Homo sapiens: one gene and its partners. The gene in region 1 interacts genetically with each later gene. Each region holds a gene or a part of one and is shown on either strand. Other genes may lie near its edges. The genes, in order: ETAA1, ETV1, ANXA9, PPM1B, CHORDC1, TNFRSF10D and CCNDBP1.

Region 1 (3,607 bases):
CTCTATGTTAGACTTCTAAAATCAAAGTTTTCCTAAATATGGTGGAAAGTTTCCAAAATGTGTCACATTTTAGAATTATTAAAATTCAAATCCACTTCTAAGAACTGAACATAATTTCCTTACAAATAAAAAGTCCTTTATTTCATATCAACCATGTTCCTAGAAATATGAAAGTATTAATTAAAATCTGGAAGTGTATAAAAACCTTAAGCAACAGTTAATGAAAGTAAAACTACAAAAACAGTCTCTACTAACTTAGAAAGTTGAAGTTTTTTATTAGGAAAAGACATTAGAATAGGAAATAACGTAGATTACCTCTTTTTTGATGATCCTCTGCAATAATAGCATTTAAAAATATAACTACTTTCCTCTGTATAATATCCGTACATAATTGCTAACTTTCCTGAATTTCCAAAACTTTTGTATTTAATGACTTTCAAATACATGTCCAAGGAAATGTTTCATTTACCATTGCAAACATTGATTTATTAAATAAAGTAGAAGTCCAGGCTTTATAAAAGTCAGCATTACATTTCTCACAGAGAAATCAAGAAAAAAAATTTCCTATCAATCACAGATAGTTATCAGCAGTCTTCGTGAAGTCTTCCAACTAATATTTCATTAAAGAAATGAAGTGGGAGCTGCATTTACAGATGAGGCTCGTGCTTTAGCCATTCTCCGAACCAGTGCTTCTTGTCTTTTTCTCTGAATTTCTTCAGGAGAACACTTTCTATTTTTCTCTTCTTCCTCTAAAAATTCAACAAAAGATGAGTTTTACTTTTATAGCCTATAAAGTCATTCAATATGTGCTTTAATTTTTGCTTTTTTTAATCACCCAGATTTGCCATATTAGTTGGCTATTAAATCAAACTAAACTACTGAATATAAAATTCTAAGTACATAATACAGATATAATGCTCCAGTTCAAAAGAAAATCAAGCACTGATGGATCTGTCTCTATTTGATACATTCTTTTCACAGTGTGATAAAATTCAGTTTGATAGAAAACTGACTACCCACCAAATAATTCTTGTGGACAATGACATCTAATTTATATGACCCACGAATAAATATATCTTTAAAAAGGATACATTGGGATTTAAAATGTTATGTAAACTTTAATTGGAAAATAGTCAAAATATAAGGAATTAAATTAGTTATCAATCTCAAACAGTGTATATTTACATAAGATGTTATATTAATATTCACATCTACTTTTCCCTATAGAGCTATAAAATTTTCATTTCATCCACTGAGGAAATATATTTTAGAGTGATAAAATGAAATCTGTCATGTCAAACTGGTTACCTGTGATTCACTGTCAGAAATTATATTTTTATTTGGAGGATGCATTTTGGAGAAACTTTAAAATAATCTCAATTAACTTAGTAAGTTGAGGCTTTGTATTAGAAATCACTTTCTCATTTAAATGATATTTTAAGTTTAAGACTATCACCCTAATACATATTTAAGTATATCATTTATTCTGACATTTAGAAAAAGATACACAATTTATGAGACATTTCTCTTGTTAACTAACAGAGGCATTTTCAAAATATATAATCTGCCTCCCTTTCCTTTCTTGGTATAATCAGAAATGGGAGGGGGTATTCAGGCTAAGAAATACATATTTTAAATAAGTTTCCCAGATGATTTTGATGGCTTTTATTTCCTAAGCTATTTACCTAACAGACTGTAGATATTTTTTCCTAAAGAGAGACACCAGAAGATACTTTCTAATTAGCTTGACTAATTATCTAATACTTTTAGTCTCAAAGCTGAGAAACACAACAAACTCAGACTACACATCCAAAGACTTTACACTGAATTTGACTGTGTGGAAAGAAAACAGGTTAATAATCTGTAACAGCAGAAAACATAACTTCCTAAAGTTGGTCTTACAATTTGCTTGGCAATATTATAGAAAATAATTTCAAATGATAATCAGGTCACACCATGAAAATTTGATTTAGGGACTCATCCATTTTTCCCATCAGTCTTTCCTTTAACTCAATCTATAATAAAAATACACAATGAAGTCTTAAAATATTGTAAAGTACTAAGCAAAAGCTGCTCTTCTTAATCTTGATCTTACAGTGCAAGGGTCAGTAATTTTTTTTTTTCCTGTAAAGAAAGAGTCAGAAAGCAAGAATGTTAACCTTTGAGTATCTTGTTGCAACTGCTCACCTGTACCACTGTAGCAAAAATAGTTATGGATAATGTATAAATAACTGATGAGCTGTATTCAAATAAAACCTGTTTATGGACAATGAAATCTGGATTTCATATAATTTTCAAATGTCATGAAATATTATTCTCCTTTTAATTTTTTTCCAACCATTTAAAATGTAAAAATCATTTTTAGTGTGCTGGCTATACATAAACAAGCTGCAGGCTGGATTTGGACAGATCATAGTTTGCCAACTCCTGCCTGAAATAAATGTGGGAGTTAAGTGAGTTTTGTTTCAGAGATACTTCCCTGGAGAGCAGCTTGCTACATACCAAAGTAAAAGGAAGTAGAAACAATAGAAAACATCAACAAAGTTAATAGTAATTAAGAGATTCAGTACTATCAATAAGTTTAAAGAAAATATTGATAAGGTAAGCTAAAACGCAGATTATCCATAAAAAATGCAGATAGATTGGTAGATAGGAGTTTTGGGAAAACTCAAATACTCCAGGAGGTTTAGTCTTTTATAGAATTATAACTATAGTTGACCCTTGAACAACATGGGCTTGAACTGGCAAGTCCACTCATTTGTAGGTTGTTTTCTGCATCTGACACCCCTGAGACAGCAAGACCAACTCCTACTCTTCTTCCTTCTCGGCCTACTAGACATGAAGATCATGAGGATGAAGACCTTTATGATGATCCACTTTCACTTAATGAATAGTAAATATTATTTTCTCTTCCTTATTTTCTTAATAACACTTTTCCAGCTTATTGTAAGAATACAGTATATAATACATATAAGAGCATACAAAATATGTATTAATTAATTATGTTATCGGAAAGGTTTCTGGTCAACAGCAGGCTATTAGCAGTTAAGTTTTTAGGGGATCAAAAGTTATACACAGACTTTCGACTGCAAATCAGATCAGCGCCTCTAACCCCCACACTGTTCAAGGGTCAACTCTATCTGTAAATAAAGTCATGCTAGGAACATGCTTGATTTAGTTACAATATGCTCACTTTAATACAAATTTAAATACTTAAAATTATTATAGATTGAGAACAATTTTTAATATTTCAAAATATCTAGTTTGGGCTATCATGTAAAGCAAGCTTGTCCAACCCGCAGCCCGCAAGCTACCCGCAGCCCAGGATGGCTTTGAATGCAGCCCAACACAAATTCATAAACTTTTTTACAACATTATGAGATTCTTTTGTGATTTTTTTTTTTTTTTTTTTTAGTTCATCAGCTGTTGTTAGTGTCAGTGTATCTTATGTGTGATCCAAGATAATTCTTCCAATGTGGCCCAGGGAAGCCAAAAGATTGGACACCCTTGGGTGTAGAGAATTATTTACTGTAAGTTTTGATAAGATAAATTGGTATAACTGCTTCGGATAGAAATTTGGTGGTATCCATCAAATTTTAAAACTTCC
Region 2 (4,479 bases), on another chromosome or scaffold:
TCCAGAACAAAAATAGAAAGATGTAAAAAATTAAGACAGGATTGTATTCTTCCAAATTTGCTTCTTAAAGCTCACCTACTAACACAACTTAAAGGGAAATAATAATTTTCAGTATATATCTGATGTAAATGTGTAGCTGCTCTCTTGACTGTTATTTTGTTTCCGGTCTAGATGTTCTTTCAGGTTCACTTTCATCAACAATATTCTCTGTCTTCAGGGTAAAATGTTTTCCAGTGGTTTTGTATTGAGTCAAGTTTAGTGCTGCCTCCACACTTCGAGTAGGAGTTTTATCTGCAAGAACAACCTTTCTACAGCAAAGCTTATTACATCATACGAATAAGGGTTTTTTCCTTTTGGTTTTATGTGACCTTCAAACAACAGTCAGGTCAACTTAAAAGCAGAGATGTCATTACTTTCCCCTCAATTCGCTTTAATGGCTGATGGTAAATTTATATTCAAAATCATAAGTAATATGTGCTATTGTTACTTACTATGTGTAATGTCATCCACAATATACAGTAGTCATAATACACTCATTTTTATTTTTCAGAAATCCTACTTTTTTTTAATGGAACATAAAATTGGTTATGTGCTCATGAATTATTTTCCCCCACTTGGTGCAATAAGGATTAAAGGCTTTAAAAACGACATTATTTTATGTGGTTTACATAAAACATGAATTTAGAATTAAGCATTGAATTACAGAACTCCATATAATCTCTTATAATTGAACAACAATAATTTCATGTGTGTGTGGGCGGGGAGAGGATGGGCTATCACCCCTCTTTTTGATGTGCTAGAAAATAATCTAAAATATGAGAGAAAGACTTCCCATTTGAGTTTGACTTAAAGACAGCAGATAAAGTATATTTTATTTCTAAACATTCATTGGAATTGCATAAATGTTTTTTCATCCATGTTTTATTTACAAAATAGAAATTTTTTTTAAAAATAGAAAAATAGGATTTGGTGTAGTATAGTGTAGTTTTTCCAGAGGATCCTAATAAATAAAATATTGCTAAGCTTTTCTATTTCAGTTATAGGAAATGTGCAGTTTGTTACATTTTGTAGTATAACTTTATTCCCTTTGATTTGTGTATAATGTTATAATAAAAAATAATAATAGAGTCAGACCTCTGTAGCATTAGAGAAAATATTTGGCTAGAAACAACGGCTAGTTGGCTCTGAGCTTCCCTTAAGTTTTCAAGTTACTGCAGGTCAGTTTTAGTTAGGAATTGAAGCTGATTTGACACAACGACTAAAACTTTACTGTTACAGTAAGAATATAGAAATATGGAAATAATGCCTTGATCAAGTATTAAAGGTGTTTTGTCATTGGAAAGTTGCCTCCTTTTTGTATGTTTAAATATGTTTATACTTCTGCATAATTAATGCTTTTACATTTGTACAATCATTTTAATGTTAAAAGTGGATGTGGTATAAAACCAAGCTTAGTGGACTCATGATTATTTTGTTCCATGGCCTGTAGCTTCAATTTAGGATTAAACAGCATACCACTGTAGGAAGGTGGATTTTTCTTTTTTTACTTCTTATTTGAAATAAAATTTAAATTTCTCATGAGAAATTTGTTTCTAACTCTTTGATTCAAAGAGAAATGCTACAAAGTTCAGCAAACAATCTACAGTATTCTTATGATAAAAATAGTTGGATAATAGAAAAGAAAAATAAGGCATTTCCGTAATGGTTTTTCTTTTCCCTTTCTTGAAACCTTCTTTGCATCTTTCTGTCTTTTCCTTTTTTCTTCCTTAGTTTTATACATGCAAGTTTCTGTAACAAGTTACTCTGTAAAGCAGGATGCATGTATGTATTTGTGTGTGTGTATATATATATATGTATGTATGTATGTATGTATGTATGTATGTAACTTTGTAAACGTCATTTATTTAAATGTGTTCCTTTAATGGATCTGAGCTCTGAGACAGAGCAATAAAATTGGTGTGTTTATATTGCAAGTCCAAGTTTACTTGCTTTAGCTCCCTGGAAGGGTGTGACATGAAAAGATTGTGGTTGGGCCACATGGCTCATATGCTGGACTGTGTTTTTGTGAATGGAGGCAGAACTCCAGTTCTGCCTGCTTGTCTTGAGGAATTGCTGAGGAGATCAGCTGTCTCATTCACGGGCAGAAAGAATGACTCATACATCTTCCGCCTTGTTTGGCTCCAGGTCATTGTTACAGTGGATAGAACTGGTTTTAATTAAATATTAACCCCTTTTATACTTGACGTTTGTTTTATTTGTAATTCTTCCACTTTTTCCTTAGCTTTAAAAAAAAACCCAACAGGCACATAGTTTGTAAGAATAGGAGGGTTTTCGCTTCCCTGCAGCCAACCTTGGAAACTTTTTCATCGCTTACTTTTTCTTAAGTAATGATTATTATTTCATTTGAAAGTTAAAAATAAGCATAACATAAAGGCAAGCTATATTTAAAATTACCCATCTCTAAGGCAATATTAGTTAAGAAAAGTATTAAAATTAAAAAGGAGAATTGGTGAGTTTGTGACATATAGGTCATGATTAATATTTTTATGAATTTCTTTCTGATAATATGCATTGATACGTAGCAAAAAGACAGAAAACAGTAAAACAACTTTGGATAATAATCTAGGTAAAACAAATAGCTGAGAGTGCAGATACTGCCCTTTTAAAGCCGACATCCTGAGACTTGATGGCAACTGGTCTATTAACGTGCAATGAACTGATAGAGCCGCTCCAGCTATTACCAATAAAATCCACATGCTTAATCTCCTTGAAAGCATTTTATTGGTCTTTTGGTATATACTTTCTCCCCTTCTCCTTTCCTCCTCTTCCCCTTCGTCTTTAATTACATAGTGTGGGGAAACATTTTCATTCCCCAAAGGTGATTATATCCAGCACAGTTTATAATAGATAGTAGTGGAAAAAACATTGCTTTTTTAGGCTGACCTCTATTGTTAATTTTCAACTTTGGAGTTGGTATGGCTTGCTGCAAGTTTTCAGGCAGCTGCAGTTTGCTCCTTCACAGTATTCCCCTGAATTGAAGAAAAAAGGAAATGTATGATACAAGTGTGGCAATACTTTGTCATATTTTCCTTGCCTAGATCCAACTTGTGTTTTTAGTTAACTGCTTTCCGTTTACTCTAACTTGAAATTAGAGGTATACTTAAGCCTTTGTCTATTTAAGTAGCATGCTGCTTCGTTTGGTCTATTCAGTTTCTTAAGATTAGCTTCTGTGAAAATGTGAGTCATATGTTTTTTGTTAAAATTCTGTAATATGTTCAGGAATAAGTGTGAAGTATTTATTCAGTATGTTAAGGAGTTAGAACAGAAATAGGAATTCTTATTCTTACTCTTTACAGATTGTTATCGTGCAGCTATTTTCTGTATATTTGCGAGGTATAACTTCTAGATTATTCTACTCCTAAAATTTGGCCCTTTTTTCCTCACACATATTCCAGCACACATCACACACCCATCAGTGAGTCTGTGCTGCTCTTGCAGTGACATATATTAGGAAGTTGCAAATCTGCTTACGATGCTACAAAAACAAACAAAAGACCTTTAGAACATTCATACCATCATATTCAGTTACAAGTATACTTTTGTTACTCACCAGCTATTTTTAACTTTTCCTGTAAAGGGATATTATATTTTTATTAGATTCTTATAAATGTTGGCTTTTTAAAAGCCCAGTAATTGTTGTGGTTGATATATTTGCATCTCAATAGTTATATCTGTTTAGCTGTTAATTCTGAGGGAAAACCAAAACAATGATATAATGGGAAAAATGTGCAGGATTTGAATCTGTGTACTTGCTGTTATTTATTAAATATATATTTAAAACACTTGTAATTTTTTTGATATGAAGACTTACTTGAAAGCACACCCTTCGCCTTGTAATTTATGAATCTTTTAGAACATTTTTTTCTGCAGTGTCAAAAAAATATGTTGTGTTAATAGCTGAGAGAATGCTAATGTACAGATTTTAGCTGTTTCGTTGCCTCTCTAGTAGACTTCATTAGAAGTAAAGATATTAAACTGAGCGTTGTAATGACATGTACTTTTTTGTGGATGACTTGAAAGACAAGGGTTGGTGGGTAGAGGACTGGAAAGAAGAAAATAAGGAACATTTCTTGAGTAGCTGGCATTGCGTTTAGACTGTTTCATTTAATCCTCACCAAAAAACTGTATTTTCACTAGTAAACTGATAAGTAAAATTCAGTTCTAAGAGGTTCAGAAACTTAACCAAAGTTGCACAACTAGCATGTCACAGAATTAAGATTTGCAGTTTGCTAACTTTGAAGTTGTTACCCACAGTATCAGATATTGGAGCAATATGAAGAGAAAAAAATTCTCCTTGCAATATAGGCTGATCAAATAGGTATCAGTTAAAACTTGAAAAAATTATTAATTTGTTTGATTTTGTTTGGTAGCGGGGGTAGAGTGCATTGGTAATAAGGTTAATTATTGGTGTACAGAAGA
Region 3 (5,190 bases), on another chromosome or scaffold:
AGGAGATGGCTTGAGCCCAGAAGTTCGAGACCAGCCTGGACAACACAGCGAAACCCCATCTCTACAAAAAATACAAAATTTAGCTGGGCATGGTGGTGGCACACCTGTAGTCCCAGCTACTTAGGAGGCTGAGGTGGGAGGACTGATTGAGCCCAGAAGGGTCAAGGCTGCAGTGAGCCATGATGACATCACTGCACAGCCTAGGCTACAGGGCAAGACCTTGTCTCAAAAGAAGAACATAGGCCAAGATTAGACATCAAAGGAAAATTGGGGAAAGCAAGAAAAAGAGGTAGGGGTGGGGGGAAGGGGTGGTAAGATGAGGATGGGAAAAAGCCACAAATTAGTGGGTGAGACACTTGTAGCCAAGCAAGGCCAGCCATCAGGGACATGAAAGGTGACACCCATGACTCAGAGGGCAGATTCCCACCTTTTCCTCAGGCTGCAGCATGGCTGGGTTCAGCTTGGAATGTGGTGTGATGGCAGGGATGGCAAGGGGCTGGGAAGGTGACATGAGTACCTTTGGGACTGTCACTTTGGAATCTGCCTTGGAGCTCCAGATTAAGATGGTTAATCATTGCTTCTCTCTCTTTATTTGTGTGTGTGTGTGTGTGTGTGTGTGTGTGAGAGAGAGAGAGAGAGAGAGAGACATGCTCTCACTCCTGTCACCCAGGCTGGTGTGCAGTGGCAGTGGCACGATCTCAGCTCACTGCAGCCTCAACTTCCCAAGCTGGGGTGATCCTCCCACCTCAAACTCCTGAGTAGCTGGGACCACAGGCGCACACCACCATGACCAGCTGGTTTTTTTGAATTTTTAGCACAGATGAGGTTTTCCTTTATTGCCTGTGACTGGTCTTGAACTCCTGGGCTCAAGTGACCTGCCCACCTCAGCCTCCCAAAGTGTTGGGGTGACAGGCATGAGTCACCGTACCTGGCCTGCTTCTCTTTTTTTAATGATCACATCTGGGTCTCTCCCCTGAGAGACTGAGGCACTGGTGGGGGCAAGAGGAAAGACCCCAAGGGAATAGAACTTAGGCAGCCAGGTTGCCAGATAGCTCACCTATGGGGAGTACAGGAGAGGAGTGGCCTGTCCTACAGCCCCTTCTCCAGCATCTGGGACCCCTCCCTCTATATTCTTACTGTGTTTGTAGACTGCCAGGCACTCCTGCAGCTGGGGTGGGGTTCGAGTGGCAAGAATTTCAATGGCCACGTCCACAGCAGAATCTGAGGCCTACAAGAAATTGGGAGTCTACTCTCAGACTGGCCGTGTCATTAGGATGGCAGACAGAGGGGCAGACGCTGGCTGCTTCTCCTTCTAAGAAACAATATGGGACGACGAGAGGGGGACTCTCGTCTTGCAAAAGCAAGGCTGACAGCCTTCTCCCTTCCCCAGACACCCCAGCAAGTCTCCCCTCCTGCTACCTTCAGAGCTGTCCTCAATTCCTGGGCGTCAAACTGGGCTGTGGGCTGCAGCAGAGCCATCACAATCCTCTCCAGGTTGCCGGAAAGTGCTGCCTGTAGAGACTTCATCAGGTCCTACAATAAATGGTCCTCACAGCAGAGGGACGGGGGTGAGGGGAAGGGCCCCAGAAGTGTGGGGAGGTTTGGGAAGATTTGGCTGGTTTTCATCTCAGGCCCTGTTTAGCCAGGAAGCAGGGGCTGGCCTCAGCGGCTGTTGCTGTCTCTCGAGTCCTCCAGGGGGTTTCTCACCCCAGTCCACTGCTGTGGGAGGTCAGCATGGCCTCACCTGTTGGGTGCGCTCCTGGAAGTTTCGTGAGATGAGCTGCCTTTGCTCTCTGCTCCGGTTGGTCAGCACGTCCACAATGGCACTGCGGTCCACGCCTGAACCGAGATGAGGGCTGTGCTGTGAGCAGGGTCTTTACATAGTGGGATGTTCCTACTCCTTGGAGGAGGGAAGGCGCTCCAGGAGAGGGCTGGGAAGGAAAGGAGCAGGGGCTATATCACCCCCACTTCCATTTTATCTCAAAAGAAGTTGCAAATAAAATGTCAAAACAGCATGCAAATCTGACCCAGACCAAGGCAAAGGTGGCCTGGTGTGGTGGTTAAAAAAAAATACGACTTGGGGGGATCGGCTGACCTAGATGAGAATACCACCTCCGTCATGAGCTGAGTGACCTTGGGCAAGCCTCTTAATCTCCCTGAGCCCCAGTTTCCTCATCTGGAAAATGGAAATAATAAGCCTTGCCTCACAGGGGTGTTGTGAGAATGGGTTTGACACACCTACTGTGGCGCCTGACATACAAGAATGAAGGCATTCCACAAACATTTCTCCAACATCACTAGTTCCTCCTTCCTGGCTCCTCCTTGGTCTACAGATTGGCTCTAAAAGGCAGTCTCAAGTGCCGGGGGAAAGGGGCTCACCTTGGCCAGTAATGGCCCTCAGTAGCCTCTGCGCATCCTTGTCCACGCTGAAGTTCAAGAAGGTCCTGAGGGTGCCCAGGGTCCCCCACGCTGCAGTCTGTGGGAGCACAGGGTAGTTGGCAAGGGCCAGGGCCAGGCTGCCTACACCTCCTCAGCATAACCTCAGGGCCTGTCCTCCACTTTCCTGCCTCCCATCCTCTCACAGCCCGAGCTGAGATACTAAAAGTGATCTCTAAAATCCCAACAGCCCCTACCTTGCTGGCCAGGCCCAGGTGGCTGAGGATCTCCTGGGTGAGGGACGGTGCCATCTTCCCGCCAGTCACAGACATGGTGCTACTGGTTGCCCTGGGGAAGGAAACAGGAGCCCACAGAGCTGAATTTCCTGGCCCTTCAGGGACTCCTTATGACCCCCCCGAGACCCTGGACCCTGGGTTCCAGTCACCTGTTCCTTTCCTTGCTGCAGAAAAAAAGATCAACCTGCTTAGGCTTGGAGCCAGAAATGGAGCTGAAATGGTGAGGTAAGAGGGGAGCCCCCACCTTCCCCACCTCTCCCCACTCCTTTAGGAAGTGGGGATTGATGCGGAATGCTCCTGGACCAGGCGCCAACCCTCCCTGATGCCAGGGTCAGCACCAAAGCTCCTCAGGCCTTGGTCCGCGGTAGATGCCTCCCTTCTGAGGTCTATGGCCCTCCTTCCTGGGCCTGGCTGGGGTCTCCTGGGCAGTGCAGGGGAGCTGAGGTGAGGTGGCAGGATTAACCACGCAGAGTGGAAGACAACTCGAAATAGCATCTTCCCCCACCGGCAGCCCCAGCTGACAAGCAACCCTCAATTCCTGCCTGTACAGCTGCCTACCTGCTCAGCAGCACAGGAGCACAGGCCGGAATCTCTAGGTCAGCAGGTGCAATCTCTTAGCTGATGTGAGCAAGAGTTCTTGCAAGTACGTGGATGCCTGGACAGAAAGGAGGCACTCTCATGTTGGAAAAGGAAAACTCATTTTTCCCTCCCCCAAGCAATCAACAAGCCCTCCTGGCATGGGGCCGTGGGCCCAGTACTTACTCAGAGGTGCCAGAGGTGAGGTGGGTGTCGTTGTTGTGGCCTGGTAGCTTGCCTGTGTGAGCACTGCCTCCGGTGTGGCCTGGTAGAGGAAAGTGGGGGTGTGTGCAGCCTAGGCTGAACAGCCAGTCAGATGACCTCTCTTAGGGACGAACCCAGCAGTTGTCTGACTCTGGCCCCTCCCAGACGTGGGAGAGGACCGGGCTGTACAGAGTCCCACATGCAGACACCTTCCTGCCCAGCATCTCTTCTCCCAGGAACTGGGCCTCAATCCATGTGAGTGAACTCCACTCAGCCTCTCAGCGGCTCAGCCTCAAACACAGGAGGCTTTTATGCACTGCCTTCCCTGTGGGTCCAGGTGGGACCACAGAGACCTAGTCTCAAAGTCCAGCTTCTGACCTGGCTCTGCCCCAGCTTCTGACCTGGCTCTGCCTCTGGCTCCAGCTCCCTGGGGGGCAGGTCAGACAGGCTGCAGGCTGATTTCAAGGCTGATAGGGAAAAACCTGTTGGGGCACATACCAGCAGGGCACCCCAGCCTGCACCCCAGAGGGGGTCCCAGCCCAGAAACTCCCTTGACTGCTGCCTTACTAGAGCCAGCTGACCTAGGTGGAGAGTGCCCAGGGATTGTGTATATCTGTGGAGAAGGAAGGGCACAAGTATTTGGGAGTGGAAGTTGATGAACAGAGTCAAGAGAGAAAAATGCAAAGGGTGTTACCTTCAGAGGGAAGCTCTATGCTCCCAAAAGGCAACAGGGAGATGGGGGAGGCTCCCTTGCCTGGTTTCTTAGATTGCTTCTGTTGCCTTTTGGCAGCCTGGGCCCTGTGGCTGTTTTAGCTGCAGGTGATGCAACCCCAGCAGCTGGACTTGAGGCTGTCTCTGCACAGAGCAGCAGGTGAACAGCCCTGTGGAGCCCCCGCCCCGCCATGCAGCAACTGCTCCAGCCTCACAGCTGGCTCCCTCAGGTCTAAACACAGCCTCTTTCCTGCCTCCCTGGAGAGCCTGGGTAGGGGCGGGGCACAGAAGCTACAGCCCTGCCTCCACTCACTCCTCTGCCTCTCTCCCAACTCAGGAAGGCCTTCACTGGCATTCCTACATCCCTGGAGGAGGGACCTGCAGTGGCTCCACCACACTGAGTAGACCATGCCGGAGGACACGCCATGAAAGGATATTTCTGTGGCGGTAATCACTGCTCCTCACTTTTCTCTCCTGTTAAAAGGAAAACATGCACCTGTGTCAGAACTGGAGAATGAGGGTTCAATATCCAGCTCTGCCACCTATGTTCTGTAAGCTTCGCTAGTCCTTTCAGCTCTCTAAATGGGAGGATTGAGAGAGACGGAGGCTGTGGGACATGCTGGGGCCTCCGAGGACAGGTTTCCTGGGATGATTAAATGAAGTAATGTGTCCACTAAAGAACTTATCCATGTAACCAAACACCACCTTGTCCCCAAAAACTATTGAACTCATAAAAATAAATAAATAAATAAATAAATAAATAAGGTAATGTGGCCAGGCACGGTGGCTCATGCCTGTAATCCCAGCACTTTGTGAGGCCGAGGCGGGTGGATCATGAGGCAGGAGATCGAGACCAGCCTTGGCTTACACAGTGAAACCCCGTCTCTACTAAAAATACAAAAAATTAGCCGGGCATGGCGGCGCATGCCTGTAATCCCAGCTACTCGGGAGGCTGAGGCAGGAGAATCACTTGAACCTGGGAGGCAGAGGTTGCAGTGAGCTGAGATGGCGCCACTGCACTCCACAG
Region 4 (4,479 bases), about 23 Mb from region 1:
AAGACATACCCAAGACTGTGCAATTTACAAAAGAAAGAGAGGTTTAATGGACTTTCAGTTCTATGTGGCCAGGGAGGCCTCATGATCACTGCTGAAGGCAAGGAGAAGCAGGTCACATCTTACATAGATGGCAGCAGGCAAAGAGAGAGCTTGTGTAGGGAAGCTCTCCATTATAAAACCATCAGATCTCATGAGACTTACTCATTATCATGAGAACAGCACAGGAAAGACCTGTCCCCATGATTCAATTACCTCCCATGGGGTCCCTCTCAGAACACCTGGGAATTCAAGATGAGACTTGGGTGGGGACACAGCCCAATCACACCATTTAATATTTTTTAAAAGAATGCAAAATATCTAATTAACTTCATTGTTTATATATTGAATCATTTTGGAAATACTGGATTAAATAAAATACATTACTAAAATTAACTTTGCCTATGTCTTTTTTATTAATGTGGCTACTAGAAAAATTTAAATTACCTTACATTTATATAGGACAGCACTAAATTAAAACAACAGAAACTTTTGGCTGGGCATGGTGGCTCATGCCTGTAATCCCAGCACTTTGGGAGGCCATGGCGGGAGGATCACCTGAGGTCAGGAGTTCAGACCACCCTGGCCAACATGGTGAAACCCCATCTCTACTAAAAATACAAAAAAATTAGCTGGGTGTGGTGGCAGGTGCCTGTAATCCCAGCTACTTCAGGAGGCTGAAACAGGAGTATCGCTTGAACCCAGGAAGTGGAGGTTGCAATGAGCCAAGATTGCATCATTGCACTCCAGCCTGGGTGACAAGAGCGAAACTCTGTCTAAAAAAAAAAATATATATATATATATATATATACATATATAAAATACACCACTGGTAGGAGTATAAATTAGTATAGCAACATTGGAGAGAATTTTGGAAATATCTAGTTAGGGCTATAAGATAAGGATGGCCTACAGTTCAGCCATTTTACTCCCTAGAGAAATTCTCGCATATATATATGGCATGTAAATGGTTTTAGACCATTGATTAAAATTACAAAAATAATCCAAATGTCCTTCCAAAAAAGACTAGACAAAATGTGTTCTAGCTGCCTGTGGTGGCTCACGCCTGTAATCACAACACTTTAGGAGGCCAAAGGAGGTGGATCACTTGAGCTCAGGGATTAGAGGCCAGCCTGGGCAGCATGGTGAAACCTCATCTCTACAAAAAAAACACAAAAATTAGCCAGATGTGTTGGTGCACGCCTGTAGTTCCAGGTATTTGGGAGGCTGAGGTGGGAGGATCACTGGAGCCTGGGAGGGCAAGGCTGCAGTGAGCCAAGATTGAGCCACTGCACTCTTGCCTGAGCAACAGAGCCGGACTGTCTTATTAAAAAAAAAAAAAAAAAAAGAACTGTTCTAATCATACAATGGAATACTATGCAATATATATGCAATACTATGGAAAAAAGGGACTAGAACAAAAAAAGAACTGCAAAAATATTAAGTGACAAGAACAAATTGTAAAAAAAAAAAAAATTCTGTATATGGTCATGTACATACACCTCTTAAAACAGTACTATATGCTATTTAGAAATACATACATGTAGGCCGGGCGCGGTGGCTCATGTCTGTAATCCCAGCACTTTGGGAGGCCGAGGCGGGCAGATCTTGAGGTCAGGAGTTCGAGACCAGCCTGGCCAACATGGTGAGACCCCTGTCTCTACTAAAAATACAAAAATTAGCTGAGCGTGGTGGCACGTGCCTGTAATCTCAGCTACTCACGAGGCTGAGACAGGAGAATTACTTAAAACCTGAAGGCGGAGGCTGCAGTGAGCCGAGATCATGCCACTACACTCCAGCCTGGGCAACAAGAGCAAAACTCCGTCTCAAAAAAAAAAAAAAAAAGGTTATTTCACTTTCACATTGCAATTCCAAACACTCCAGAACAGATGAATAGAAACAAACTCAATTTCCTTAAGTTTAGGACTAGCAACCACCAAAGACTTAATAAAATGTTAGATTATATAAACAAAACCAGTTACAAGAGATAATTTTTTTAAATTCAAGTAAGGTTGTTTTTGGTTATTTTTAAATCTAAGATAGATGGCCAAATGTTGAACAACTTAATGAATCTGGTCTGAATTACAGTACTAAATTTAATATATTCCAAAATTTCAAGTTCTCTTGCATATCAGCATTTTGATAAAGTAACAGAATTACAAAAATACATTAAAAATGAAACTAGGCCGGGCACGGTGGCTCATGCCTGTAATCCCAGCACTTTGGAAGGCTGAGGCGGGCAGATCACCTGAGGTCAGGAGTTTGAGACCAGCTTGGCCAACATGGTGAAACCCCGTCTCTACGAAAAATACAAAATTAGCTGGGCGTGGTGCCGCAGGCCTGTAATCCCAGCTACTTGGGAGGCTGAGGCAGGAGAATCGCTTGAACTGGGAGGTGGCGGCTGCAATGAGCCGAGATTGCACCACTGCACCCCAGCCAGTTGGTTGATTTGCTTTAAAATTAAAAAAATCAATCTTGATTCACTTTAGCAATGAAGATCAAATGAAACTGACTCATAAATGAAAGCACAAGACCACCAAGCATTAAAATAAGAACAAAAAGATGAAAGATCTTTTATGCTTAAGTTTGCAATGTTTGTATAAACTGAAGAAGAGGCCTCTTTACCAAACTGGTTCAGTAGGAAAGCAATAGAAAGAACAGAAAGCAAAAATTAAGCACCTGCTTCACACATCTAAGTGCAATACGCCCATCTCACATGCAGAAAAAACAAAGGCACGACGTTAAGTAATACAACAAAGCTATGGAAGGAGAAGCAGTGATAAATATATAGACCAAGTTGTGCACAATAAACCAAGAGACAAATTGGCTCCATTAGCCATCTTTGCTAAGAGCACAAAAGTAGCCATTACAAATCAGTACCAGGCACTATTGGTCAACCACTAATCCTTCAGCTATACTCACGTAAGAACAGAAAGCTTTTTAAACATAAATGACAACATATATTTTATAGGTATATCCCAATTATTTAAATCAGACTTAAAAAATCCTGTTCACCCTTCTCCTATTGTTCCACCTTTACTCCCATCCTCCTTTCCAGGAACTCATCTATCCAAGGATGTACAGTAAATGGAAACACCTGAAGGCCCCAAATTTCCCTCATGTCTGTCTAATGCAGGGATCTCTTTTTCTCTCTTTGGGTCATCTTTTAATCTTAAACCAGGCAGGGCATGGTGACTCACGCCTGTAATCCCAGCACTTGGGGAGGCCGAGGCAGGTGGATCATGAGGTCAGGAGTTCCAGACCAGCATGACCAACATAGTGAAACCCCATCTCTACTAAAAGTACAAAAATTAGCCAGGTGTGGTGGTGCATGCCTGTGATCCCAGCTACTCGGGAGACTGAGGCAGGAGAATTGTCTGAACCTGGGAGGCGGAGGTTGCAGTGAGCCGAGATCATACCACTGCACTCCAGCCTGGGTGACAGAGTGAGACTCCGTCTCAAAAAAAAAAAAAAAAAATCTCAAACCAATGTCTTTCTCTAAGGCACAACAATATTTCCTCTTTCCTCTTTTCAGTCTAGTTTTTATCCAATTACAGAAAACCTCTTCCTTTCCTTTTGTTAAAAATAGTAAAGCTCTAATCACAGCTTTTAAGTTTAGTGTACAAAACACACACACCCCAAATCTTCCACTCAAGTTTTTAAGCCAGCCACATAAGGAGTTCAGCTGTAATGTAAACTGTGAGTTGCTGGTTAACAGAATGCAAGATCGTCAACGACAAGGATTTGGGATTTTGTCTGTTTTGTTCAGATACTGGCATGAAATGGGGGCCTTTGCACACAGAAGGCACTCAGTGAACATAAGAATTGGCTGGAGGGTTACAGACTAAATACTATTAGACTGTTCTGAATTCTTTACTTCTCAGTGGGTTGGTAGCTCAGAGTAAATAAAAGCAGAAAGCCTCCCAAAGCTCAACAAAATCTCCTATATAATCTTAACATTTGGAGTGCTTTGAATTAATTATGTTCCCCCACCCCCACTTTTGTTTTTTTTGAGACGGAGTCTCACTTTTGCCCAGGCTGGAATGCAGTGGCGCGATTTCAGCTGGGTTGAACCTCCACCTCCTGGGTTCAAGCGATTCTCCTGTCTCAGCCTCCTGAGTAGCTAGGATTACAGGCACATGCCGCCACACCCAGCTAATTTTCTGTATTTTAGTAGAGATGGGGTTTCACCGTGCTGCCAGGCTGGTCTCGAACTCCTGAGCTCAGACAATCCGCCCACCTCGGCCTCCCAAAGTGCTAGGATTATAGGCGTGAGCCACCAGGCCCAGTCATGTCCTCTTTTTAAGGGACTAAGAAAGGCCACCTGTGTTCAACAGAAAATGCCATTTCCCCACCTCAGAGATAAATGCTTTAGTCAGAACAAGGAAAAGGAAAAACACTGCCCAAATAGGTTAAACACCCATGCTGACACTTCTAGATTCT
Region 5 (4,479 bases), on another chromosome or scaffold:
TAATTATACCTTCCAAAGAGTAGTTAGACTGTTTTGGCACTTCACTGTTAACACCACCAAATCTAACAAAAGATGTATTAGTCTGGTTAGTTCTGAGTGAGGAAAACAGAGAAGACATTCAGTAGGGCAAGTTGAGACCTTATTCCTCCATACATTTTTTTAGTTTTTACAAATCTTTGTTGTGGTGGAAACTGTGGTGCTGTGGAAATGTTTATTTTTCTTTTTGTGGAATTTTATTTTTCCTAGACTGCCATTTCTTCTGATATTTTTGTTTTACTGTGTCTTTTTCTTTTTTTCCCTATGCTGTTTTCCTCTTAGCTCTTAAAGGTAACCTTTGGCTGTTTTCTCTCATTCAGTTCATTCATTGGTTTTCTCAAATGTCACCTCTACGCCGATGGCTCTTACAACATATTTCTATTTATGTGTCTCATTGGCAACATCAAACCAGTTTCTAGTGTGTACCGTTTATTCCAAAAGTAGTCTGCCTCTCAACTTTACTGCTCCTAGTAATGATACTACTGACTTTCTGATCATTTGGTCCATTGCCCGTTTTTTCTCTTACCGCATTGTTAATCACTCCAAGTCTTAATGAATTCACTTTGAAGTATTTTTGCTTCTCTCTCTTTTGCAGTTGTAGTGTTTATTGTGGTCTCTATTTTATAACCATTTCTTAAAGTCCTAGACTTTCCAAGATTATTGGATTTCACAGTCCAGAAGATTTCAGACAAAATGCGTATACATCAATACAGGGATACTAGTTGACCAAGTAAGAAGTTAAACATTGCATTGACAAAAGAAATACTATTTTAATATTAGAAGGGGCATATTCAGAGAAAAGGACAATCTTGCTGAAAAAAGACAACTAGCAACCTTATATTCACATAACTTAAATTTATCTTTCCTTTTCTCATTGTACTGAAGACTAGCATAGAATCCAGATTGGCATTTGGGAACAGCTGGCCTGTATTGTATTTTACATGTGTGTATCACAGTATCTGACATAATTTAGTACATGATTAAGACAGTAAAACTTTTTCTCTTATAGAATAACTTTTCTGTTGACTATATTATTGATGCTATTTAAACCCTATATTTAAGGTTGTAGTAATTGATCTACATCTCAATTCGGAGTAAAAGATAATTAAATTTCAAATTAAAGGAAAATTTGAATTATAGGATATTTGAAATTACCTTTAAAGAAAAAGAACCTACAGGTGCATATAATGAGAAAAATCACTACCATATTTTTATGCAGTCTTTTGAAAATCAGCGAGGTCCAGGCGGATGTGTGCAAAGTTGCATCTTAATCTGAATTTAGTCCCAAATCTTAATCTGAAGTTCCAAGTTTTGAGATTTTGCATTTTTGTTTCCCTATGCTCTATAAACATTGGAATTTAGAGATAATTATTAAAGCCATTTTTTGGTAAACTACTTGATAGTTTGTTCAAAAATCACAAATACTAATAGTTTCTCTGTCTTTATGCTTCTCACTGAAAAGATCACCTTCAAAGGCTTAATAGTGCTTTAGCTGCTGTGTTAATTAATCTTTGTTGTTCTGAAAATAGAATGCTTATTGTGAAATTAAAATTAACTAAAGATAGTTACTATCTTTAACTTAATAGATTTTAAAAGTAAAATACCTATACTTATTTTGAATATTCTTTAAATATGATAGTTTTAGGAATTATAACATGTTTTTCTTCTAAAAAAAAAGCAGACACGATTGTTGAAAAGAGAAACAGTTTTTGTTTTATAAAGGTGCTTCCCTTGATGATAGGGCATAGCACAAATCACTTTAACATTGGTTAATTGGCTTTTTAAAAATCAAAGATTAATATTCATTTTACTTGATTAGGTGAATTATATGCAACACTGAAATTTTGCACTCTATACGCAAGTTACTGCAGGATTCAAGTAGATAAGTGCAAGTAGAGTGTTTTAGTGGGTCGTGTTTCTCATGCAAATAGAGTTTTTAGTTTCCTTCTCTTGTTTTTCATAGGGTTGGTCTTGCTGTAAGAGAAGAACAACTGATTTTTCTGATTTCTTAAGCATTGTAGTAAGTACTAATTATTTTTTCTAGATTATCTTCCTAAAAATACATGTTATAGAAAGCTTCAGATTTGAGGAGTCTGATTTCTGATATAGATTGATTGGTCTTCATCAACTTGCAGATAACACCTTTCAAAAAGCAGCTCATCTCCCTTCCACAGCTTGTAAAATAAAGAATCTGTTTTGGAAATTAACGTTTTAAGGTATCAGTTACCTGCTTATCATTTTAGGTTTGTTCTTTCTGTTATGTTGAAAGAACATCAAGGAGAAAGTGGTAAGCAACAATTTAAAGCCTTTTCAGTTAGGAACGATAAAGTTTTATCTAAGATGCTGTTGAAATATTTTACATACCACTTTTATATAAAACCACTTTATATACCACTAAGAAAACTAAAGCTACTAACAAACTGATAATGCTATTGATTGTATCATTTCAGAGGTGTTAAAGAGTATGTATAATTCAGTAGAATGTAGTAGAAAAGTAGCTAACGTTTGTTGAATGTTATCACCTGCCAAATGTGCCAGGCATTTTATTATTTAACTCTCTCAGAAAATATCTTACCTGACATTACCTCCATTTTACAAATGAGGAGATGGAGGTTTAAAAAGATTATCTTGCTTAAGGTCATATAACTAATAAGTATGTTGAGAACTAGGTCTCAAATTGAGGCCTTTCGAGTAACAGATTTTTCTGTATAACTATTTTTTACAGTTCTTTGTGAGATTCTCCAGAATTCTTCTGTAAACAAGAGGTTTATGCCATATTTTTAATAGAATAAGTAGATGTTTATGAAGTGTAATTCAAAGACTTTTTAAAAAAGCCGTCATTCAGAGATTCAGCAAATATGGCAAATTTGGAGTTCTGTTTTTAATTTCTTAAAATCAATGTATTGAAACTGGAGAAAACATGAAATAGAATCACTATCAATAAAGAACTGAAAAGATAATATTTCTATCATGAAATGTAAAATAGATAGCTCTTAATGAATTATCTTTCACTAACAGGGCTGTACAAAAGGTAGACATAATAGTGAGAAGCCACCTGAGCCAGTCAAACCTGAAGTCAAGACTACTGAGAAGAAGGAGCTATGTGAATTAAAACCCAAATTTCAGGAACACATCATTCAAGCCCCTAAGCCAGTAGAAGCAATAAAAAGACCAAGGTATACTTTATACAGTTACATATTTTTGTCACACTTGAATAGTAGCACTTGTGCATGGTACTTTCCTTTATGATTTAGCATGATACCATTTGTAGCTACTATGTAGGCCACCAAGCTTTGAACCATTTGGTTTCTCCCTTAAATCTGCCTTAAATTTTTATTTCTCTTCAACTTGAGAGCATGTACACAATATAACTACATAACAGATTTGCATATTGTACTGTCATAATTACAGGGACATGTATCATCAGGGTAGGGAAGTCACATTTTTCTTGTGCCTTAGAGTGCATCTTTTTCACTGTGGCATGGTAAAATTCTTTGAAGCAGTTTTCCTTTTCATGGCATGAGTTTGAAGTAGAAAATAATGCAGAGGCCTAATCATCCATCTTTACTTTCAGATGCCTGAAAACTACCGTTAATCTCATTACTACTGGTCAATTTTTAATGCATTTGATTTAGATGACATATTTGTGAAAGTAGTCTTAAAAAAGCGTTTGCTCATTGTGCAATAGAGTTGTACAGATTCTTCATACTTGCCTTCTGATAACCAGACTCTGTATTCCCACACATGTATATTGAGTACCTTTGTTGAACCAGGTCTTCTTCGTGCTACACTTGAGTACTAAATTGTTTTAGAAGCAAACTACAGGACTTAAAAAAAGGTGATTTTTTTTTTTTTTTTTGGCTGCAAGTAGGCACTTATTGTAATTTTTATTCATGCTATGAACTCATGATTTTCCCTTTATTCTCCTTTGATCCTACTTAAATAAATTTATAGAGTATTGAATAATATAGAACCAAGATAAGAACCCTAAGAGACTTTAGATGTTTATTTGTTCATTAGCACTCTGAGTACAGATTATTGCTAAGGAAACTACTCAGGATGATTTTATTCTCTCTCCATCTTCATAGTTAGAGGAGACCATTGAATGCTTTGGCCAGTTTAGCAGTTAGAAAAATAATTGGGAAAAGACAAAACTTCAGTCATGGCTCATTCTTAATCTCTTTAGTAATATAATACAGTCTGTACTATAATAGTATGAGTTAATTTTTTCTTTAAATGATGGGCTGTTATTTTACTTAAAGGGCAGTGAGAGGCCAGGCACTGTGGCTCAAGCCCATAATCCAGCACTTTGAGAAGCCTAGGAGGGAGGATCCTTTGAGCCTAGGAGTTTGAGAACCAATCTGAAAGAGATCCTGTCTCTCCAAAAAAAATAAATTAGCTGGGTTTGGTGGTGTGCTCATGTAGTTGCAGCTACTCAGGCTG
Region 6 (4,479 bases), on another chromosome or scaffold:
CAGGACATCTGCTTCTTACTCCCTGTCCTGTCCTTGCTGTGTCCCCAGAGCCTGGATCTCCACAGGCATAGAGTGGGTGTCACAGGGTTCACTGAGGACTGAATAAGGCTGCACAGTCTCCATCGTGTGCTCCTAACAGAAGTCAGGGAGCCCTTGCTTGAAACAGCGGAAGTTTTAAATGTTCTTCAAAATTCTTACTACATTGAACATATTTCACAGTAAATCTTTGTCCAGATTTCTGATCAAGTATGTAAGGAGGCTTCTGGGAAGAAGTAGGATTTCTGAGTCAGTGTGTAGAAGTGCTTTTGTATTACAGAAACACACACATCCAGTTATTCACATCGATTCACTAGTTTTGATATGACATTGAGTAGGTGTGAAATCTGGACACACATTTGTTTTTTTTTAAGTTCTTTCCTTCAGGATAAAATAAGATGATCCTACCTAATTTTTTGTGGACTTTTAAAGAATGATTTGGTTTGTAGCATACACCAGTGGAACGTAGGTGCCATTTCTTTTGTGATGCTGTGTGAAGTGAGGAATTCCCTGAATTGTTGTGAGTCACTGTCTCCTTCCTCCACGCCTGTTTAGGAACTGATTCTCCTATTTTTCTCTGCTTTTGGCTCCTCTTTGATCACTTGTCAAATACTTACCTAGACAAGGTTCACTTTCCACCCATTTTCTTCCTTTCCTATAACTATACCCCATTTTTTTTAATGAAGGGAAGTATAAAAAGGTAAGGAAATAAACAAAAAATATCAACAATTACTCCACGCTGCTGAATCGCATTGCACCTTTGTTTTGTAATTTGTAGAGATCTGATCTTGCTATGTTGCCCAGGCTGGTCTCAAACTCCTGGCCTCAAGTCATCCTCTCACCTTGGCCTCCCAAAGTGGTGGGATTACAGGCATAAGCCACTGCACCTGGCCGCGCTGCACATTTTTTGAAAGTGGTAAATGCAGAGCCACACATCTGCCACACTATAGAAAGGTGCTCAGTCGGCCGGGCGCCGTGGCTCATGCCTGTAATCCCAGCACTTTGGGAGGCCGAGGAGGGTGGATCACAAGGTCAAGAGATGGAGACCATCCTGGCCAACATGGTGAAACCCCACCTCTACTAAAAATACAAAAAATTAGCCGGGCGTGGTAGCGGGTGCCTGTAGTCCCAGCTACTCGGGAGGCTGAGGCAGGAGAATGGCGTGAACCCGTGAGGCGGAGCCTGCAGTGAGCCGAGATCACGCCACTGCACTCCAGCCTGGGCTACAGAGTCAGACTCCATCTCAAAACAAAAACAAAAACAAAAAAAAAACAAAGGTGCTGAGTCATAGTGGTAGTCCCCTAACACTTCCTCCAGCCCCCAGCCCTTCTTCATTCAGGTGAATACAACAGATAATTTCTTGTGATTCTTTGTAGAAATCTTTATGCATATGCCATGTATATTCATACAAGCGTATGTACATTTTGTTTACATTACAGGGATTACTTTACATATAATACACTGCCAAGGAAACTTTTTTTCATTTTTTATTTTTCCTTTTTCAAATTTATTTTGATTCAGGGGGTACATATGTAAGTTTGTTTGATGCTGAAATTTGAGGTATGAATGATTTTATCCAGGTTGTGGGCACAGTATCCAACAGTTAGTTTTTCACCCCTTCCTCCTCTCGCTCCCTCCCCGCCCTGGTAGTCCCCAGTGTCTATTGTTGCCATCTTTATGGTCGTAAGTACCTGATGTTTAGCTACTACTTATAAATGAGAACACGCAGTATTTGGTTTTGCGTTCCTACATTAATTCACTTAGGATGATGGCCTCCAGCTTCATCCATGTGGCTGCAAACAATATGATTTCATTCTTTTTTATGGCTGTGTGGTAACCTATGGTGTATATATGCCACATTGTCTTCATCCAATCCACTGTTGATGGGAACCTAGGTTGATTCCATGTCACTGCTATTATGGATAGTGGTGTCTTTTGGTAGAATGATTTGTTTTCCCTTTTTTTTTTTGAGAGGGAGTCTCGCTCTGTCACCCAGGCTGGAGTGCAGTGGCACAATCTCGGCTCACTGCAACCTCCGCCCCTCCAGGTTTAAGCAGTTCTCTGCCTCAGCCTCCAGAGTAGCTGGGATTACAGGCATGTGCCACCATACCCGGCTAATTTTTTGTATTTTTAGTAGAGACGGGGTTTCACCGTCTTGGGCAGGCTGGTCTTGAATTCCTGACCTCGTGATCCATCCACCTCGGCCTCCCAAAGTGCTGGGATTACAGGTGTGAGCCACCGCGCCCAGCAGATTTGTTTTCTTTTCTATGTATACCCAGTAGTGGGTTTGCTGTGTTAAATAGTAGTTGTTTTAAAATTCTTTGAGAAATCTCCAAACTCCTTTCCATACTGGCTGAACTAATTTACATTCCCACCAAAAGTATATAAATGATCCTTTTTCTTCATAGTCTCGCCAGCATTTACTGTTACTGGCTTTTTAATAATCGCCATTCTCACTGTATGAGATGGTATCCCACTGTAGTTTTGATTTGCATTTCTCTGATGATTCATGATGATGAGCATTTTTTCATATGTTTGTTGGCCACTTGTATGTCTTCTTTTGAGACATGTGTGTTCATGTCTTTTGCCCATTTTTAATGGGGTTGTTTTCTGTGTGTTCATTTAAGTTGCATATGGCTCCTGAATATTAGACCTTTGTCAGATGCATAGTTTGTAAATATTTTCTCCCATTCTGTAGGTTGTCTGTTACTCTGTTGATACTTTTTTTTTTTTTTGAGATGTACTCTCGCTCTGTCACCTAGGCTGGAATTCAGTGGCATGATCTCAGCTCACTGCAACCTCCGCCTCCCGGGTTCAAGTGATTCTCCCTCCTCAGCCCCCCTAGTTGCTGGGATTGCAGGCACGTGCCACCATGCCCAGCTAATTTTTGTATTTTTAGTAGAGATGGGGTTTTGTCTTGTTGGTCAGGCTGGTCTCGAACTCCTAACCTCAGGTGATCTGCCTGCCTCGTCCTCTCAAAGTGCTGGTATTATAAGTGTGAGCCCCCACACCCGGCCTGTGGAGAGTTTCTTCTGCTGTGCAGAAGGTCTTTAGTTCAATTAGATGCCACTTGACAATTTTTGTTTTTATTGCATTGCTTTTGAGGACTTAATCATAAATTCTTTGCCATGGCTGATGTCCAGAGGGGTGTTTTCTAGGTTTTCTTCTAGAATTCTTATAGTTCATGGTCTTACCTTTAAACTTTTAATCTACCTTGAGTTAATTTGTGTATATGGTGAAAAGTAGGGGTCTAGTTTTCGTTGTTCTGCATATGGCTAGCCAAATATCCGAAGCATCAGCTGTTGAATGGGGAGTTGTATTATTCCATTTTCATACTGCTATGAAGAAATACTTGAGACTGGGTAATTTATAAAGAAAAAGAGGTTTAATGGACTCACAGTTCCACATGGCTGGGGAGGCCTCACAATCATGGCCTGAGGTGAAAGATGAGCAAAGGCACATCTTACATGGCGACAGGCAAGAGAGCGTGTGCAGGGGACTGCTCTTTATAAAACCATCAGCTCTTGTGAGTCTTATTCACTATCACAAGAACAGAACTGGAAAAACCAGTCCACGTGATTCAGTTACTTCCAATAATTTTTTCCAATTCTGTGGAAAATGACATTGGTAATTTGATAGGAGTAGTATTAAATCTGTAGATTGATTTCAGCAGTATGCCCATTTTAGCCATATTAATTCTTCCAATCCATGAGCATGGAATGTTTTTCCATTTGTTCATGTTATCTATGATTTCTTTTAGCAGTGTTTTGTAATTCTCTTAGAGATCTTTCACATCCTTGGGTAGAGGTATTTCTAGGTATTGTGTGTGTGTGTGTGTGTGTGTGTGTGTGTGTGTGTGTGTGTCTGTTGTAAATGGGATTGTGTTATTGATTTGGTCCTCAGCCTGAACATTATTGGTATATAGATATGCTACTGATTTTTTTTCTTTTTGAGACAGAGTCTTGCTCTGTCACCCAGGCTGGAGTGCAGTGGCGCGATCTCAGCTCACTGCAAGCTCCACCTCCCAGGTTCACGCCATTCTCCTGCCTCAGCCTCCCCAGCAGCTGGGATTACAGGCGCACACTGCCACGCCTGGTTAGTTTTTTGTATTTTTAGTAGAGGTGGGGTTTCACCGTGTTAGCCAGGATGGTCTCGATCTCCTGACCTTGTGATCCGCCCTCCTTGGCCTCCCAAAGTGCTGAGATTACAGGCGTGAGCCACCGTACCCAGCTACGCCCCGTTAATTTTTGTATTCTTTAGTAGAGACGGGGTTTCACCATGTTGGTCGTGCTGGTCTTGAACTCTTGACATCGTGATCCGCCTGCCTCGGCCTCCCAAAGTGCTGGGATTACAGGTGTGAGCCACGGTGCCCGGTGCTACTGATTTTTATACATTGATTTTGTATCCTGAAATTTTGCTGAAGTCGTTTATTAGTTCCAGGGG
Region 7 (4,479 bases), on another chromosome or scaffold:
TATTCCAGAATGTTTTGAGAGTAAATTGCAGACAGCAATGACATTTCACCCCTAAATACTTCAGTATGTATCTCCTGAAGTACTCTTATTCCTACTCTTATTATCACATCCAAGAAATTTGACATTGAATATAATAGTATTATCTAATATTCAGATTTCCCCAGTTGTCTGTATCTAAAATGTCATATAAATTCAGGGTTCTGTCAAGGTCCCACATTGCATTTAATTGTCATCTCTTTAGTCTCTTGAAATCTAGAACAGTTCCTATCCTTTGTAGTCTTTTTTAATCAACATTTTAAAAAGAAACCAGGACAGTTGTCTTGTAAAATATCCAACAACCTGGATTCACGTGATTGTTAGTTCTCATTTTTGCAAGAATATCATATAATTAAGTGTTTTGTACATCTCATTTTATCATATTAGGGAGGCACATGATGTTGGTTTGCCTCATTATTGGTGGTACTAAATTTGATCACTTAAAGTGGTGCTCACTTTAGTAAAGGTATATTTTACTCTAATTTTAGCTTCCACTGATGAAGGCTGCCTGCCTATATTAGTTATTAAACTGATGGTTTCACATCCTCACATTTTTGACTGAATTGATCATGCACCCTACTATGAACCAAGGGAATTTCCCCCCCAGCTTCCTAGTGAAATGGGGTATGGTTGTTTCAATAAAGACTGGTTGAACTCATTCTGTATTGGTTGCCCAGTTGCCCAATTTTAAAAACTGACAGGCATTTCTGGGACAGTTTCTCACTGTTGACATCCATAGTTGTGTACTAGAAACAACCTGGCTGCGTTTTTTTGTTAATGATTACTTTTGTTTTCTGCTCTTAGTGTGGATGATTTGGCTCTGAGCATATATCCACCTATGTGTCACCTGACCGTGCGAATCAATGTAAGTACTGGCTTTGAGGGAATAGCTACAGAACAAATGGGCAGAATTTCACTAATCACTAGTATTTCCTGTAAGCTATAGGGTACATATTTATTAGTCACATTTGGATGGAAGTACAACAGTAATGTCACAGTTCTTGCATGCGTTTGGGGTTGATAAATATTCACTGAAGTTGAATTATAATAGCCATGAGCTTTGGTAGTTCTCTCTTCCATAATCACCTGGGTAATCATTCAGAAAAGCCCAAAGGCCTTAGAAAATGATGCTTTAAGGCTGGGCGCGGTAGCTCACACCTGTAATCCCAGCACTCCAGGAGGCGGAGGTCAGGAGTTGAGACCAGCCTGGCCAACATGGCGAAACCTTGTCTCTACTAAGAATACAAAAATTAGCCGGGCATCATGCACCTATAATCCCAGCTACTTGGAAGGCTTAAGCAGGAGAATCGCTTGAAGCCGGGAAGTGGAGGTTGCAGTGAGCCGACATCGCGCCACTGCACTCCAGCCTGAGCAACAGAGCAAGACTCTGTCTCAAAAAAAAAAAAAAAAAAAAAAAAAAAAAAAAAGCTTCTTTGAAAAGAAAGTCTTAATTACACGGTAATTTAGGAACTTCTCAACTTGAAGTCACAAGTTTCTAATTTCTAGACTAGGCAGCAATTAGATTGAACTTCAGCTGTTCATGAAGTAGCTGGCTGAGGTCACATGTTTCTGATTTCTAGACAAGGCAGAAATAAGTGTTCCAGAAACATACTCTGTTCTAATACAAACACATTGTGTGATTTAACTATGGAGAGTCAACTTTCTTATAAAAATCTGATTTTATTGTATTCTTTGAGGTTCTGTGCCCTTTACTAGAGAGAGTTCTGTTCTCTCTAATGTTATTGGAAAGAGCAGTAAAACTGCCAAATGGCTTATATTTTACAATTGAATGTATCAATTCTAGTAATATTTGATAAATTGGATAATGGAAATTAGATTCATCAGATGTGTCTTCATGATGTATAAACACCTTGAAGTAGAATAGGATCCTTTTGGGCATTAACATTTTTTTGGCATTAACTTTTAAAAAATTGACTTCCTAAGAAATAAACATTTTTAGCAATATGCCTAGTCAGCTATCCCAAACATAGTATCTGCTCTAGCAATTTTAAAATGTGTACTGCATATGCATCTTATATGTATTGATATTTTATATTAAACGTCTCCATCTTATCCTTATATTGGTGTTCTTAAAATTCTTAATGCGCTTTTTTTTTTTTTTTTTTTTTTTTTTTTTTAAAGGAACCTTAGTCATTTCTGCTTTATATTTTGAGCTATCAGCATTTGGGACCAATTCAGGTTACATTTTCCTTTTTCTGTCCTTTTTTAAATTGAAAATATTTTAGATCTAAAAAATCTTATTAAAATGTTATAGCAATAGTATTAATAAGATCTTGCTAAATAGAAAAGAACCCGTAATCCTGCCACCCTAACCTAATCAGCATTTTAAATTTTGCATACTTCCTTCAGGTCCTTTTTCTAAATAATTTTTTTATTACTTGGGTCTTTAAAAATATTTGAACTCACCTTTTTATGGTAGGGCTCAGGGTGAATAACTTCTGTGTTTCTTTTCTAGTCTGCGAAACTTGTATCTGTTTTAAAGAAGGCACTTGAAATTACAAAGTAAGTATGAAGACTTCTCAGATAGCTTTTTGTGAGTAAAACGGAACTGCTGTCCAGACGTTCTCAACTCCCTAGCTCCCATTTCAAGGAGTGGGAAAGGGTGGGTGTGGGATTTTCTTTCAGCTTCAGTTGTGGGGCAGCTGAGATTCTGCAAAGAAGCTTCCCTTTAAAAAAATTTTAGTTTTCCCTGTGCTCCCTCCTGAGGATAGGTTTTCCCTTGACATCCTAATAAGTTTAACTTACTTCTTTCCTATTCTATTCACAGAGCAAGTCATGTGACCCCTCAGCCAGAAGATAGTTGGATCCCTTTACTTATTAATGCCATTGATCATTGCATGAATAGAATCAAGGAGCTCACTCAGAGTGAACTTGAATTATGACTTTTCAGGCTCATTTGTACTCTCTTCCCCTCTCATCGTCATGGTCAGGCTCTGATACCTGCTTTTAAAATGGAGCTAGAATGCTTGCTGGATTGAAAGGGAGTGCCTATCTATATTTAGCAAGAGACACTATTACCAAAGATTGTTGGTTAGGCCAGATTGACACCTATTTATAAACCATATGCGTATATTTTTCTGTGCTATATATGAAAAATAATTGCATGATTTCTCATTCCTGAGTCATTTCTCAGAGATTCCTAGGAAAGCTGCCTTATTCTCTTTTTGCAGTAAAGTATGTTGTTTTCATTGTAAAGATGTTGATGGTCTCAATAAAATGCTAACTTGCCAGTGATTAAATGAGTGCCCTTCCAAAGTTTCTTTTTACCAGAAATACAGTGGATTGAGACTAGAACATTGCTTTCATTTGGGTTTGTAGGTTTAAAAATCTGATTCTAATCAGAAGTATATTTAGAACAAAACACTTTATTTATAAAAGATGACTCCAAAATTCATCTTAGTATTTCACCATGTTATATATTATTATCAGCAAGTCCTTCTGAATATTATCACAGATTACTCCATGTCTCTAAAATATATTGGCATTGAGCTCATTTGTTAGGTTTGCCCACCTTATTGAACAGATTTATTTTCCTTATACATACTTGTGTTGTCCTTGGTTACGTGTGTCCCCAAATGTAAATACCAAATTTTTATAAATCAAAAATTTTTTAGTGTGTAAGAGATTTTATGTAATTTTAAGGGCCTTTTCAGTTCATCCTTTTGCAAAACCATCACCACTTAATTATACTTTTGCATCAGTCTAGAAGACTGCATATTGGAAAGCAGTGTAAATCTATAATGATGTATATTCTGGTGAGCTGAATAGGGCATTATGCATGTCCTACAGGTCTCCGCCACCTCTCATGCCCATCATCTTCCTTTTGTAGGTGTAATTCATAACATATGCCTTTCTGCTGTCTTTAGGTATAATCAGCAACAGCAGTCATTCTTTGAGTGACTAATGTATACTTGGGGTTGGGGTTGAAATTCCTTAAGCCAAATGAGTTTTAGCTTACTGTTTTGAAGTGCCATTTTGTATTGTTAACAAGTGTCATGAAGGGAAGGAACTAAAATCAAACTGACAGAGTGTCAAGGCAACAAAATAACATAAACAAAATAATAACATTGTACAACAGTCTAGTTCTTTTATCCTTTCATATAGAGCCTATTTTTTATATACTTTTATATTTCTCTACTGGACCAAATTCATGTTATTAACATCAGACTTTAATTGTGGGATACTTAATGAATATAGAACTCTAATATAAAGACTTACCTCTAGCTGAATTATTCTCTCAGGTCCTGTATTGTATAACTTCGTTCAGTCATGTTTGGATCTTTAAGGATAATGATCAGGGAAAGCACTGATCAATGTAATTTTTTTTTTTTTTTTTTTTTTTTTGAGATGGAGTCTTGCTCTGTCCCCCAAGCTGGAGTGCAGTGGCACACTCTCGGCTCACTGCAACCTCCGCCTCCCAGG

Evidence for each region.
Region 2: changes in ETAA1 (region 1) and ETV1 are lethal when combined (synthetic lethality), as found in Homo sapiens cells (one large-scale study listed by BioGRID).
Region 3: changes in ETAA1 (region 1) and ANXA9 are lethal when combined (synthetic lethality), as found in Homo sapiens cells (one large-scale study listed by BioGRID).
Region 4: changes in ETAA1 (region 1) and PPM1B are lethal when combined (synthetic lethality), as found in Homo sapiens cells (one large-scale study listed by BioGRID).
Region 5: changes in ETAA1 (region 1) and CHORDC1 are lethal when combined (synthetic lethality), as found in Homo sapiens cells (one large-scale study listed by BioGRID).
Region 6: changes in ETAA1 (region 1) and TNFRSF10D are lethal when combined (synthetic lethality), as found in Homo sapiens cells (one large-scale study listed by BioGRID).
Region 7: changes in ETAA1 (region 1) and CCNDBP1 are lethal when combined (synthetic lethality), as found in Homo sapiens cells (one large-scale study listed by BioGRID).

What each region holds. Positions count from the first base shown.
Region 1 is NC_000002.12:67,407,053-67,410,659, reverse strand, and holds part of ETAA1 (ewing's tumor-associated antigen 1), read right to left. Parts: intron 750-3,607; coding exon 622-749; 3' UTR 1-621. UniProt on the Homo sapiens protein: Replication stress response protein that accumulates at DNA damage sites and promotes replication fork progression and integrity.
Region 2 is NC_000007.14:13,978,907-13,983,385, reverse strand, and holds part of ETV1 (ETS translocation variant 1), read left to right. Parts: intron 1-4,479. UniProt on the Homo sapiens protein: Transcriptional activator that binds to DNA sequences containing the consensus pentanucleotide 5'-CGGA[AT]-3'. Required for olfactory dopaminergic neuron differentiation; may directly activate expression of tyrosine hydroxylase (TH).
Region 3 is NC_000001.11:150,980,624-150,985,813, reverse strand, and holds the start of ANXA9 (annexin A9), read right to left. Parts: upstream 3,523-5,190; 5' UTR 3,435-3,522; intron 3,328-3,434; 5' UTR 3,231-3,327; intron 2,725-3,230; 5' UTR 2,709-2,724; coding exon 2,634-2,708; intron 2,477-2,633; coding exon 2,380-2,476; intron 1,840-2,379; coding exon 1,745-1,839; intron 1,534-1,744; coding exon 1,420-1,533; intron 1,229-1,419; coding exon 1,138-1,228; intron 1-1,137. UniProt on the Homo sapiens protein: Low affinity receptor for acetylcholine known to be targeted by disease-causing pemphigus vulgaris antibodies in keratinocytes.
Region 4 is NC_000002.12:44,174,821-44,179,299, reverse strand, and holds part of PPM1B (protein phosphatase 1B), read right to left. Parts: intron 1-4,479.
Region 5 is NC_000011.10:90,212,751-90,217,229, reverse strand, and holds part of CHORDC1 (cysteine and histidine-rich domain-containing protein 1), read left to right. Parts: intron 1-1,999; coding exon 2,000-2,056; intron 2,057-3,054; coding exon 3,055-3,212; intron 3,213-3,809; exon of another isoform or gene 3,810-3,874; intron 3,875-4,479. UniProt on the Homo sapiens protein: Regulates centrosome duplication, probably by inhibiting the kinase activity of ROCK2. Proposed to act as co-chaperone for HSP90. May play a role in the regulation of NOD1 via a HSP90 chaperone complex. In vitro, has intrinsic chaperone activity.
Region 6 is NC_000008.11:23,139,797-23,144,275, reverse strand, and holds part of TNFRSF10D (tumor necrosis factor receptor superfamily member 10D precursor), read left to right. Parts: intron 1-4,479. UniProt on the Homo sapiens protein: Receptor for the cytotoxic ligand TRAIL. Contains a truncated death domain and hence is not capable of inducing apoptosis but protects against TRAIL-mediated apoptosis. Reports are contradictory with regards to its ability to induce the NF-kappa-B pathway.
Region 7 is NC_000015.10:43,191,903-43,196,381, forward strand, and holds part of CCNDBP1 (cyclin-D1-binding protein 1), read left to right. Parts: intron 1-840; coding exon 841-901; intron 902-2,512; coding exon 2,513-2,559; intron 2,560-2,824; coding exon 2,825-2,939; 3' UTR 2,940-4,479. UniProt on the Homo sapiens protein: May negatively regulate cell cycle progression. May act at least in part via inhibition of the cyclin-D1/CDK4 complex, thereby preventing phosphorylation of RB1 and blocking E2F-dependent transcription.